2 linked regions of the Homo sapiens genome follow. The protein of the gene in region 1 interacts with the protein of each later gene in a biochemical or structural test. Each region holds a gene or a part of one and is shown on either strand. Other genes may lie near its edges.

What was found. The genes of interacting proteins can lie anywhere in the genome.
Region 2: the proteins of CHD9 (region 1) and PPARA form a complex in vitro, tested with the Homo sapiens proteins (one study listed by BioGRID).

Annotation. Positions count from the first base shown.
Region 1 is NC_000016.10:53,051,153-53,057,990, reverse strand, and holds the start of CHD9 (chromodomain-helicase-DNA-binding protein 9), read right to left. Parts: upstream 3,001-6,838; 5' UTR 2,914-3,000; intron 1-2,913. UniProt on the Homo sapiens protein: Probable ATP-dependent chromatin-remodeling factor. Acts as a transcriptional coactivator for PPARA and possibly other nuclear receptors. Has DNA-dependent ATPase activity and binds to A/T-rich DNA.
Region 2 is NC_000022.11:46,230,512-46,237,537, reverse strand, and holds part of PPARA (peroxisome proliferator-activated receptor alpha), read right to left. Parts: intron 5,747-7,026; coding exon 5,299-5,746; intron 2,406-5,298; coding exon 2,158-2,405; 3' UTR 1-2,157. UniProt on the Homo sapiens protein: Ligand-activated transcription factor. Key regulator of lipid metabolism. Activated by the endogenous ligand 1-palmitoyl-2-oleoyl-sn-glycerol-3-phosphocholine (16:0/18:1-GPC). Activated by oleylethanolamide, a naturally occurring lipid that regulates satiety.

The DNA.
Region 1 (6,838 bases):
GCACATCGCAGCCTTCTCATACTTAGGAACACTAGACAGCACGTCAACTGTACACTTGGGGCCATTTCAAACAGCGACATCACAAACAAAAACACACAAACATGCAAAAAATGTGGCACTAAGTACACCACAAAAGGGACACTTGTTTATAGCACAAGAGCTGAAACCAGAAAGCAGCGTGTCCTCCTGTTTGCCCTTGGCTGGAAATGTGCACGTTGGGTGACTCAACTTTTTCACTATTCTACGTGCATCCATATATGACTGTGAAAGTGTCATGGATATTGATTTGGAAGTTACGCAGACATTATTTTTCTTTTTTCTTTCTTTTTTTTTTTTGAGATGGAGTTTCGCTGTTGTTGCCCAGGCTGGAGTACAATGGCGTGATCTTGGCTCACTGCAACTTCCACCTCCCAGGTTCAAGCAATTCTCCTGCCTCAGCCTCCCAAGCAGCTGGGATTACGGGCTCTTGCCACCACGCCCAGCTAATTTTTTGAATTTTTAGTAGAGACGGGGTTTTGCCATGTTGGCCAGGCTGGTCTCGAACTCTTGACCTCAGGTATCCACCCACCTCGGCCTCCCAAAGTGCTGGGATTACAGGCATGAGCCACTGCACCCGGCCTTTTTTCCTCTTTTTTTTTTTAAATGAGCCAAGGTCTCTCTATGCTGTCCAGGCTGGTCTCAAACTCCTTAGCTCAAGTGATTAGGCTGGTGTCAAACTCCTAAATTCAAACTCCTAACCTCACACCTCAGTCTCCCAAAGTGCTGGGATTACAGGTGTGAGCCACCACACCCGGCCACAAACATATTTTTTTAAAAATTCTTTAATTATATAATTTTTAAAATAAAGATATAGGGTCTTACTGTGTTACCCAGGCTGATCTGGAACTCCTAGCCTCAAGTAATCTTTCTGCCTCAGCTTCCCAAAGTACTGGGATTATATGCATGAGCCACCATGCCTGGCCACAAACAAATTTTTTTTAAGAATTATTCAATGTGTATAATTTTTAAGCAAACAGGGCCTTGCTCTGTTGCACAGGCTGATCTGAAACTCCTAGCCTCAAGCGATCCTCCTGCCTCAGCCTCTCAAAGTGCTGGGATTACAGGGAAGAATTTGCAAATTTAGAACTTGTGAATAATGAGAATCTACTGCACTTTCTTCCTGTTTCTCTCATTCGGGGCTGGCTGAATTCTGTCTTACTCATATTTTATCTCTAGCATCTGGAAAACTGCCTGGCCCACAGTAGGCTCTCAATAATAAATGTATTTCCAATGAGCGAATGAGTCAATTCAGTGGAAGTGCTCAGCTCACAGCAGTGATAGCTAGTGTTTGTGAAGACACACCACGCGCCTGCCCCGTGCACGCTGTCCTGGTCAACAAGGGAAACAGCAGAGTATTGTTCTTTTGCACCTGAGCTCAAGAGCAGACTGCCTGGGTTCAAATATGGGACATGCTTCTTATTAATTAATTATATAACTTCGAGCAAGATCATTGGCCTCTCTGAGCCTCAGTTTCCTTGGCTATCAAATGCAGTATTCATAGTTCTACCGTGGAAGTTATGGTCAGGAGTCTAACTTGGCCCTGCACAGAAAGCCTCTAGCATAGGGTGAACCCTTAGTAAACAGTAGCTTTTATTGTGAATAATTCCCAAGGCAACCCGATTTTCACACCCATTTTGCAGATACAAAAACTGAAGCTGAGGATGGTTCAGTGAGTTTCCAAGGTCACAAAGGAAGGGCTGCCTATGGGGGGGAATCTATGCCCATGTTAGTAACACTGCTGTTATATAAACATAAGGGGTCAGCGGGGCGCAGCGGCTCATGCCTATAATCCCAGCACTTTGGGAGGCCGAGGCTGGAGAATGGCTTGAGCCTAGGAGTTTGAGACCATCCTGGGGAATATAGTGAGGCCCTATCTCTATAAAACAAACAAACATAAGGGCTCATTTTTACTAGTTGTAAAAGGGCCCTTTTACTAGTTGTAAAAAAGGCTCGTTATAAGGCCTCTCACTGCCTAATCAGCTAGGTTTGCCAAAATGAGGAAGACAGCTCCAGCCAGTCTCCTGATCTTCTCTGGGATCAGGGTGGGGAGGAACCCCCTTCCTACCCATAAACCCCTAAGAGTCTTCGCTCACATTCCACACTGGTGTCTTTCTGTTCCTTGTCCACTTTCGAGTTCAACCCTTTCAGAACCAGCCCTACTGTGGGGGGTGGGGGATGGTTAGTTTGTTATCTTGGGTTTGACAGTACAAAGGCAGAGGCATTTCCTGCTTAAAAGGCACATGAGAAAGGAGGAGGAGGGCGAACTGGAGGAATAGGAGGAGGAGGGAATCATCAGCATTCTGGGTTAGAACAAACAAATGTCCTCCGTTTTTCTCCAACTCCTTAGATCAAGGGTCCTCAAATTTGGCTGCCAGCTGGAATCTCTTGCAAACATTTTAATACCCAGATGTCCAGTCCCCCACCCAGACCAATCACATCTGAGTCTCTGGGGGGGGGCGGGGGTGGAACTAGGGCATCGGTATTTTTTTAATGCTTCCCAAGCAACGCCAACGGGCAGACAAGTTTAAGAAGTGGTGCTCTGGACCTTATCAGCACTCGGCTGCCACCCTGGAGTGGCTCTGGGCGACAGTGGCTGCTTTCCGCTTCGAGGACGCCCGGCTTGGGGATTCGGGCATGCTCTGGGAGGCGAGGGCTGGGGAGGATGCGAGCGTGCCAGCGACCTGGTGCTCTGCCTTGCTCTAGGCCCAGCTCCGAGGCTGCGGGTCTCTGGGTCCCCCCCACGGCTACAACACGTGCTGCCGCCCCGACTCCTCCGGTTATCTCTGCAGACCGCAAGCGGTGCCCAGCGGCCGCCCCGCTGTCCACCCCGACCTCAGAGGCTCCAGGGAGACGCCCGGGGCTCAGGAATCCTACCTTGGCTGCCGGCGCTGCCCTCCAGTCCCCGGAATCCTGGGACTCAGGTTCGAGCTGTCGCTGTCGCTGTCGCTGCGCCTGTGAAGCGCCCACTAGAGCGCAGGCGCCACCTAGTGGGCGCGGGGCGGCTGCGCAGGGACCGCGCTGGCAGGCGGGAGCGCAGTCCAGGGCGGAAATGCAGCCAGGGCTTCTTCCCACGTGGGCGGTTTTCCAGCGCGCCGCCAGCCCTGTGGCCAGATCCGGCCTGGGGCGGGACCACCTTCACCCGCTGCGGGGCACTGGGATCTAAACTTGGTGAACTTTCTCTTGGGGCACGGAGGGACCCCTCGGCCTGGTATCCATCCTCCGGTTTTCCGGGCTGAGCACAAGGATCTTTCCCTTCATCCAGCAGCTTTCAGTGCACCCCACCTTTGGCACTGCTTCTCTTTTAAATGTGCTGGGACCATCCGAGGCTGGGGTTCTCTCCAACCCAGGGAGGCCCTTCGCCTATCAGCAACCATTTTTTCCTGCCACCCCCTAAACCGTCCCTGAATGAGAGAAACAGCCTGCTCTGCTGGCTTGCTCTACAGAGGCCAGGACTGGTGGAGGATGGGTGTGTGCCAGCGACCTCGTGCTCTGCTCTGCTGGAAGGCCTTCTCTGAGCAGTGGAAGGGGAAGGGGCGGCTTAAGGGAATTGTGTTTTTTGTTTTTTGTTTTGTTTTGTTTTGTTTTTGTAGAGACAAGGTCTCTCTATGTTGCCCTGGTGGCTCTTGAACTCCTGGTCTCAAGCGATCCTCTCACCTGCAGCCTCCCAAAGCACTGGGATTACCGGAGTAAACTATGGCTCCCAGCTGCCTGGTATTCTTTCAATGAAGACATGCCAAAACGCTTACAAATATGGTGGACATTTAATGGTTTATATTTCATTTATGTCTTCATTTAACAACGATTAACTGAGCACCTACTATGTGCCACTTTTCTACAATCAAGGGATACAATGAAGAACAAAACACAAAAATCTCTGCTTTTGTTGAATTCACATTTAATGTAACACATGAATACTTTTAACACACCCAACGATCTAATGCAAAGCGATTGAGCTCGTTGTGAGATAAGTAGAGGATTTATTAAAAATATCTATATTTAGGGCCAGGCACCGTAGCTCACGCCTGTAATCCCAGCACTTTGGAAGGCTGAGGCAAGAGGATCGCTTGAGGTCAGGAGTTTGAGACCAGCCTAGCCAACATGGCAAAACCCAGTCTCTACAAAAAATACAAAAATTAGCCGGGCGTGGTGGCAGGAGCCTGTAATCCCAACTACTCCAAGGCTGAGGTGGGAGAATCCCTTGAACCCGGAAGGAGGAGGTTGCAGTGAGCTGAGATCGCACCACTGCACTCCAGCCTGGGTGACAGAGTGAGACTCTGCCTCAAAATCAATCAATCAATCAATCAATCAATCTATGTTTAGGGCGCCAAGGGCAGACATTCCTGGTGATGGATATAAGCATTACAGAGTTCTATGGGAACGTCTTCACGTTTTCTTGTAATCCTGGCAGTTTATCTCTGTGGCAACATTTGGAGATAATGCCTTCAGTGGAAATTTCAGGTGATTTGTGAAAGTTAGGCCTGCAATCCTCCTTTCCCCCTCCCCCCGGCCCCCACTCTGCTCCCCCAGGACGCTCTGTCATTGTTCTAGCCCAGTGTGAGTTTGTGTGTGAGTGTGTGCCTATTTAACCTTTGGACTCTCTGTACTGGTGTAATCTGGTCAAAGTGAATATCAAGGGCAGAGGAGGACAAGGAGGAGCAGGAGGAGAAGGAGGATGAGGAGCAGGAGGAGGAGCAGGAGGAGGAGGAGCAGGAGAAAGGAGGAGAAGCAGGAGCAGGAGGAAGAGGAGCAGGAGAAGAAGGAGCAGAAGGAGGAGGAGCAGGAGGAGGAGAAGGAGGAGGAGCAGGTGGAGGAGGAGGAGCAGGAGGAGGAGAAGCAGGAGGAGCAGAAGGAGAGGAGGAGCAGGAAGAGGAGGAGAAAGAGCAGGAGGAAGAAGAGGAGGAGAAGCAGGAGGAGGAGGAGGAAGAGCAGGAGGAGGAGGAAGAGCAGGAGGAGGAGCAGGAGGAGGAGGAGAAGGAGCAGGAGGAAGAGGAGGAGAAGCAGGAGCAGGGGGAGGAGGAGGAGGCAGAGCAGGAGGAGGAGCAGGAGGAGGAGGAGGAGGTGTCATCTGTGGACAATACCTGGAAGGGCAAGGGGTGGTGGGTGTCACTAAAAGGAACCAGCCCCAGCTACTTCACTGCAGGCTGGTGCCCTGGTGAAGGTGAATCAGTCAGAGGAGTGCTGACTGCCCATGGTAAGTACCAGCTGCCAGACAATTTCCCATTCTTTCACTTTAAAGTGTCTGAGTCATGTCCAGACCATTCTTGCCCCATCTTTGCAACAGCTCCCTCCCCACCACTGTGCCCCAAAGCATGCCTGGGCAAAGTCCTAGATTACAACCTCTGGATTCTGGCATCACCTGATGAGATTAAGTCTTCCTAGTGACTTTCTCTTCTGAGTTCTCCTGGCATTTTTCTCATTCTGCTAATCACAGTGTTTCTGGAAACTGCAGAGTTATCAACAGATCTGTTTTCTCCATGGAAAACAGGAGTTTTGGTAGGCTGAAGTATGTAAATAACAATAATAAAATATTTATAACGTGTTAGACACTAACAGTTTTCTTTAAGAGATGGGGTCTTGTTCTGTCATCCAGGTGATCATTGTTCATTGCAGCCACAAATTCGAGCTCAAGGGATCTTCCCACCTCAGACTCCCAAGTAGCTGGGACTGCAGGCATGTGCCACCATGCCTGGCTAATTTTTAAATTTTAATTTCTTTTTTTTTTAAGAGATGGGGTTTATTGTTTTTTTTTTTTTTTATGTTGCTCAGGCTGGTCTAGAACTCCTAGCATCAAGCATTTCTCCCACCCCAACCTCCTAAGTAGCTGGGATTATAGACACAAGCTGCCATACCTGGCTCATGCACTAAGGATTTTAGATTGACAATTTAGTTTAATCTTCACAGTAATCCTACAAAGTAGGCACTGTTACTCTCCCCACTTTCTCAGCGAAGAAACTGAGACTTGCGATGTTTAAGTAACTTGCCCTAGGTAGAGGAGTTAGCAAGTAATGTACCCAGAACGTGAATCTGGATTATCTTATTCCAAGGCACATGCCCTGAACACCTCACTACTGTTTACTAAGCACCTACTATGTGCTGGACGCTGTGCTTTATATATGGAACAGGATAGGCAAGGTACTCATTATATATATATATATATATATATATATATATATATATATATATTTATACTTTTAAGTTGTAGGGTACAGGTGCACAATGTGCAGGTTTGTTACATATGTATACATGTGCCATGTTGGTGTGCTGCACCCATTAACTTGTCATTTACATTAGATATATCTCCTAATGCTATCCCTCCCCCCTCCCCCTACCCCACAACAGGCCCCGGTGTGCGATGTTCCCCTTCCTGTGTCCAAGTGTTCTCATTGTTCAATTCCCACCTATGAGTGAGAACATGCGGTGTTTGGTTTTTTGTCCTTGCGATCATTTGCTGAGAATGATGGTTTCCAGCTTCATCCATGTCCCTACAAAGGACATGAACTCATCATTTTTTATGGCTGCATAGTACTCCATGATGTATATGTGCCACATTTTCTTAATCCAGACTATCATTGTTGGACATTTACTCATTTTTATCCCTTTTGCTTTCTTGTTCTGTTCACCCTTTTCTTCAAAGGGAAAATTTTGTTTACTTTTGTTTTTTAAAATAAATTCATAAAATTATGTTATGAGATGTGACCTAATTTTTAGTAAGAAAGGGAATATTTATCTTCTAGAGTGAGTCTCCATTAAAGAGGGTGAGGATCAGGCCAGAGGCAGTGGCTCACACCTATAATCCCAG
Region 2 (7,026 bases), on another chromosome or scaffold:
CAGCCTCGACCTCCTGGGTTCAAGCAATCCTCCCACCTCAGCCTGCAGAGTAGCTGGGACTACTGATGTGTGCCACCCCGATGAACTAATTTTTAAATTTTGTGTACAGACAGGGTCTTGCTATGTTGCCTAGGCTGGTCTCGAACTCCTGGGCTCAAGTGATCCTCCCACCTCGGCCTCCCAAAGTGCTGGGATTCCATGTGTGAGCCACTGTGCCTAGCCTGATTACAAAAACCAAAACGGACTAAATTTGTAATTTTTAAAAAAGGATGTCCTAACCCTAACTTTCACTTTTTTCTAGTGGAAGTCTCACACTGTGTCCTTCCCACTCTCGCATTTTCATAATGCTGGTCATGGGACCCTTATCAATCCTAATCATTCTTAAAATAATAATGACCTCAGAAGAGCCAAATTTTCTAAAGATGGGGGAGAGGCATCGACGATACCTCCAGGTGCCCAGCGACTCCCTGGAGGCGGTGGTCCTGGCAGTTCCAGTCCAGATCTAAAAATTCTCAACAGGACAATTTATCTACCAGGTGGACAGAGAGAGAAAGTGTTTCCAGGTCCATATATTCTTGACAAACTACCATAATCAACGCTGCCTTCCCAGCTGGACTGAGGTTGGTAAGTTGGTTTTGAAGGCTAAAACAAAAATTTTAGATGTTGAAAAAACTACCTTACATACAAAGGAGACTTAACAACCTAAACCATTGTAAAAAATAACCAACTCTTGTGAAATCTGCCATTTGAAGTAAAACTGCCATTTGAAGAAGACTCTACCCCCTCTCTCGATCCGCAGGGTGACTGGCTCCCACCCAGCCCAGGCTATGAAGACACATGTGCCTCGTCTGCGCTCCAGAGAGCATCTACTGTCACCAAGAGTTAAAACAATAAAACATCATATCTTTAAAAGCAACATAACAAAAGATACGGGAGCTGCCAAATGGGGCCCGGAGGAACACTGACAAGTAAGGTGTCAGTCTGTCCCTAAGAACACCACCATTCCCACAGACAGCTGGACTGGGTGGGTTCAGGTTGACTGGACGGAGCTGAGTGGAGCAGGAAGCTGGCGGGCTTCGGGAGCTTGTCTCGTCCCGCTTACCACGGGTGCTAGCTTATGACAGTCCAGAGCGGGGGTCTTGAGACTCTGTTTTCTGGGCTCTTCTACGCAAACCTGGAAATGGGCCTTTCCACATATTAGTTACAACCACGAAAACAGTGAGCCAAAAACAAAACAACAGCTGCATTTTGATAGCTTATCTAACAGATTTTTTTTTTGTTTGTTTGTTTTTAAGACAGAGTCTCGTTCTGTCACCAGGCTGGAGTGCAGTGGTGCAGTCTTAGCTCACTGCAACCTCCAACTCCCTGGTTCAAGCAATTCTCCTGCCTCAGCTTCCCGAGTAGCTGGGATTACAGGCATGTGCCACCACACCCGGCTAATTTTTGTATTTTTAGTAGAGACAGGGTTTCACCATGTTGGCCAGGATGGTCTCGATCTGCTGACCTTGTGATCCACCCGCCTCGGCCTCCCAAAGTGCTGGGATTACAAGTATGAGCGACTGTGCCTGGCCCAAACAGTTCTTTAAAATTCTCCATCCTATGATTAAAAAGCAGCATGTTGTCTTTCTTTAGATTCAGGAAACAGAAGTGAAGTCTTTGAAATAAATATTTTGCTGCTTTTTACATACTTCACCTTTGGATACATCTAGACTTATAGGATTATAAACATTGTTAAAAAGTGCTGATTAGTTTTCAGAATTATAAAGGAGCACAATAGTCAAAAGCGGGGTGAATGGGAAGACAGGCCACGAATTTTGAGGTTACCAGTTAATTAAATGGTAAATCACGAATGTGATCTAAAGCAATGTGCATTGATTAACATCGGGTGAGTTAAAATCAGACCATTGAGCATAATTCGCCGTAATCTTCCCAGTCCTGAGATTAGCCACCTACCCCCAGCATTTGAGTTCTATGCTCTTAGAAGTACTGGTTAAAACAAAGATATGGAATAATATGCCGGTTACCTACAGCTCAGACTGTCCAAGCTCTAAGGTTAAAGTGGTGGATATTTGTGCAAAATCGTGCTGCTCCCCCGTCTCCTTTGTAGTGCTGTCAGCTTCAGAACTCCTGGAAAAGGTGTGGCTGATCTGAAGGAACTCAGTACATGTCCCTGTAGATCTCCTGCAGTAGCGGGTGCAGCGCAGCATCCGACTCCGTCTTCTTGATGATCTGCACCAGCTGCGCATGCTCCGTCACCAGCTGCCGGAGGTCTGCCATTTTTTGAAGAAGTTTTGGGAAGAGAAAGATATCGTCCGGGTGGTTGCTCTGCAGGTGGAGTCTGAGCACATGTACAATACCCTCCTGCATTTTTTCAATGTGTCCTACGTTTAGAAGGCCAGGACGATCTAGTCTCGAAAGAAGAGAGAGAGGTTTGAGTGTGATAATCACCCAAGAACTGCTTATCAGTTTCAGGAACCAAACATGCCTATTTTATGTGGCCTTTCTTAGAAAAAAACTGAGCTGCCTTTAGATATTGTCAACTTGACTGGAAGATAGACATAGGTTTTTCCAAAGTCAATAGGTGAAGTAGGGACAGACAGGACCAGTACTCTTTCCTAAATATTCATACTACTAGGCGGCAATAGTGCCCTAAGTACACCTTATGGTGCGGCCTTTTCACTTGTGATTTACCTGATGACCACCTGTCAGGGAGAAAAATTAGAGCTAGTAGGAGGAACAGTACATTCTGGAGATCACAACCACCAGTTTTGCATAATATGGGAAATGAAGCTTTTGAATCCAAACTAGATATCAAGCTTCAAGTGTTCCACCATATTTAAGGAGTGATTGTGTTAGAACTAGGTTTTGTAGGCCAGGCACGGTGGCTCACGCCTGTAATCCCAGATACTCGGGAGGCTGAGGTGGGAGAATCGCTTGAACCTGGGAGACGGAGATTGCAGTGAGCCAAGATCAGGAGACCCAGAGTGGGGAGGAGGGTGGGGCAGGTCTGAGACTTGGTGCAGGAAGAGTCAACATTCACACCAGATGACCTGCCTGGGGTAGCTGGCACTAGACATCCTGGGACAGTCTCAAAGCATGAGACCTGATTCTTGGTCCAGAAAATACTGCCCTGAGCCATGTTCAGCAGGCGGTGCTCCCTTACAGACCCAGTCATTACTATGATTCTTAACAGGGTTGCTAGTGATGAGGATTTAAACATCTTCATTGTTTTTGGTTGTAAATGTAATTATTAAGTTTTTATTTCTAAAATTCTTGTTTTTGTATTGTTTTAGTGATGGGGTCTTGCTCTGTTGCTTAGGCTGGACTGGAACTCCTAGGCTCAAGCAATCCTCCTGCCTCGGCCTCCAGAGTGGCTGGGGCTATAACTATTAAGTCTCTAAAGAGAGGAATTATTGCCGGGTGCAGTGGCTCATGCCTGTAATCCCAGCACTTTGGGAGGCCGAGGTGGGTGGGTCACCCGGGGTCAGGAGTTTGAGACCAGCCTGGCCAATATGGTGAAACCCCATCTTTACTAAAAATACAAAAATTAGCCAGGTGTGCTGGCATGTTCCTGTAATCTCAGCTACTCAGGAGGCTGAGGCAGGCGAATCACTTGAACCCAGGAGGCGGAAGTTGCAGTGACCTGAGATCGTGCCACTGCACTCCAGCCAGGGTGACAGACGGAGACTCTGTCTCAAAAAAAAAAAAAAGGAGGAATCTTTTGAAAAATAGAAATCCCCCCTCATAATTTTAATCCCACCATAATAGGTTTAACATATATCTCACTGGACATTTTTCTATATACATAGGATTGATATAGGATTATAATTTCCTTTATAAAACTGTGATCATGCTACATATAAATAGTTCTGCAACTGCATTTTACCCACAATGCTACATCCTGACCATACTAAAGGACAAATTATGCATAACTGCTTTGTCTTTGTACACTTTATGCCAGAGCGCAAGGACTTCCTTCATCTGACTTGTGCCCAGCCACACAGTAACGGGCACGGCTGGTAGGGCTGAGTCAGCTCCATGCTGACAGTGAGTCAATCCCCCAGGCGCAGTATGGCTGCAGGCAGTGTGGGAGACCCCATCTGTCTCCACCAACCCTGGGTAAGGTCAGCCGAGTTTGCAGTAGGTGGATGACCTTCCTAGACCTGAGATGGGGCTATTTAAAGGAACGTGACACCGAGCCAAAAATGTGGAGGCTGCAGAGCCAGCTTCCACAGAGAGGACCAGATCGGCCTTCCCTGGGATCTGCTTCCTCGGGCAAAGCAAACCTTGCAGTCACTGCCACTTGGCTGCTGACTGATATTATATTTTGCATTAGGAAATATACTTTTCATCAACATAACCAACTGTGACAGCAACTATACTGACATCTGTATAGCACTTCATACAATATTGTCTATAATATGAATACAACATCATTATATAATATATACAGGAATATCATAATATATAAATTATATCTGTTTATAATATTAGATATAATATAAACGAAATGTGTGTGTGTGTGTGTGTGTATAATTTTTTTTTTTTTTTTTTTTGAGACAGGGTCATTCTTCGTCGCCCAGGCTGGAGTGTGGTGGCGTGACCTTGGCTCACTGCAACCTTTGTCTCCTGGGCTTAAGTGATCCTCCCACCTCAGCCTCTCAAGTAGCTGGGACTACAGGTACATGCCACCATACTTGACTAATTTTTTCTATTTTTTTTTTTGTAGAGACGGGGTCTTGCCATGTTGCCCAGGCTGGTCTCAACCTCCTGGGCTCAAGTGATCCACCCACCTCAGCCTCCCAAAGGGCTGGGATTACAGGCCCATGTCCGACCTCTTTTTCTCTATATATATATTTGTGCAAAATATATAATTTTTTTTTAAAGAAATAGGTCTTGTTCTGTTGCCCAGGCTAGAGTGCAGTGGTGCATTCATAACTCATTGCAACCTGAACTCCTGGGCTCAAGAGATCCTTTTGCCTCAGTCTACTGAGTAAGTAGCTGGGACTAAAGGTGTGCACCCCCACACCTGGCTAATATTATGATTAAAATGTCATACATTTACATAATATTAAATATGTATTTATAGATAATAACAATATATACTATAATATTATACAATATTGTTATAATTCCCACTGAATTCTCAGCAGTGACTGGGGGTCAGACGTCTTCCCACCATGTGAGTGTCCCCTCCACTGGAACAGCTCAGGCTGGTACTGGATTTCCCATTGTCAAATTTTTCAAGACAGGAGCCTGTCAGTGACATGATACCAGCAGATTAAATCAACCACTCACCTCCACAGCAAATGATAGCAGCCACAAAAAGGGAGATATCACTGTCATCCAGTTCCAGTGCATTGAACTTCATGGCAAAATCAAACTTGGGTTCCATGATATCACAGAACGGTTTCCTTAGGCTTTTTAGGAATTCACGAGTTATAAACCCATTTCCATACGCTACCAGCATCCCGTCTTTGTTCATCACAGAAGACAGCATGGCGAATATGGCCTCATAAACTCCGTATTTTAGCAATGTCACTTGATCGTTCAGGTCCAAGTTTGCGAAGCCTGGGATGGCCTTGGCGAATTCCGTGAGCTCCGTGACGGTCTCCACTGACGTGCACTGGCAGCAGTGAAAGATGCGGACCTCCGCCTCCTTGTTCTGGATGCCATTGGCCACCAGCTTGGCCACCAGCGTCTTCTCAGCCATACACAGTGTCTCCATATCATGTATGACAAAAGGCTACAAAGGAGGACACCAAGGTAAGTCAGGTGATGTGGGATGCGCTATGCTCCCAGCTATCAGCTCACTAATGAGCAGCTCCTGCGTCCAAATCACCAAGCTCAGTGCCTCAGAGGACTCAAGATACCCGCGGAACATAGTCCTTACTCAACTTCAAAATCGGTTGGGGAAAATAAGACATTAATAGAGAACAAACAGTATAAATCAGTAAAATAATAATAGTCATCGCCTGACATTGGGTGGATTTCATCGCTAAGAAACTGAAGTACTGGGCTGGGCATGGTGGCTCACGCCTGTAATCCCAGAACTTTGGGAGGCTGAGGTGGGTGGTTTACCTGAGGTCAAGAGTTCGAGACCAGCCTGGCCAGCATGGTGAAACCCCGTCTCTACTAAAAATACAAAAAAATTAGCTGGGTGTGGTGGCGGGCGCCTGTAGTCCCAGCTACTCGGGAGGCTGAGGCAGGAGAATGGCGTGAACCCAGGAGGCAGAGCTTGCAGTGAGCCGACATTGCGCCACTGCACTCCAGCCTGGGTGACAGAGCGAGACTCCGTCTCAAAAAAAAAAAAAAAATTAGCCAGGCATAGTGTGTGCCTGTAACCCCAGCTACTCGGGAGGCTGAGGCAGGAGAATCGCTTGAACCTGGGAGGTGGACGTTGCAGTGAGCCAAGATCGTGCCACTGCACTCCAGTCTCCAGTCTGGGCGACAGAGCGAGAGTAAGACTCCGTCTCAAAAAAAAAAGAAACAAGAAACTGAAGTACTGATTTTGTCAAAACAAAACTAACGAGGACATTAGCAAAGCACCTTTAATATTCTTAAATATTCTCTGAACTAATGACTATTGCAAGAGGCTTAATTACGATCATTCTTAATTTTACCAGTATATGCACTTTAGGGGTGAACACCATTATTTAACGCTGCTCAATGAATACATTTGGCATGTAAATACATACAACTCAGAAAGGTGGCATCTATGTAGAAATCGGCAAACAAGCGTTGTGAAACTCTTTAGGGATAAAGTGGAAAAGCCTCGGAATGCCCTTGTTTCTCTCAGTGCAGGAAACTGAAACCTTCACTCGGTGCTCCATATTCTGGAGCAAGTGCCAACTCCCCACAGCCGTGCCTTGTGTGCTCCCATGCCATCTGCATGTAAACCCAGTGGCCTGCCATTTCCTGAAGATCTCGTGGTGGAAGAGGTGGCTGGCCATATTATTTGAAGCCAACATGCTCAGAAGGGATTACATGTGTGGGAGAGCCGGGGAAAATGAGCACAAACACTGC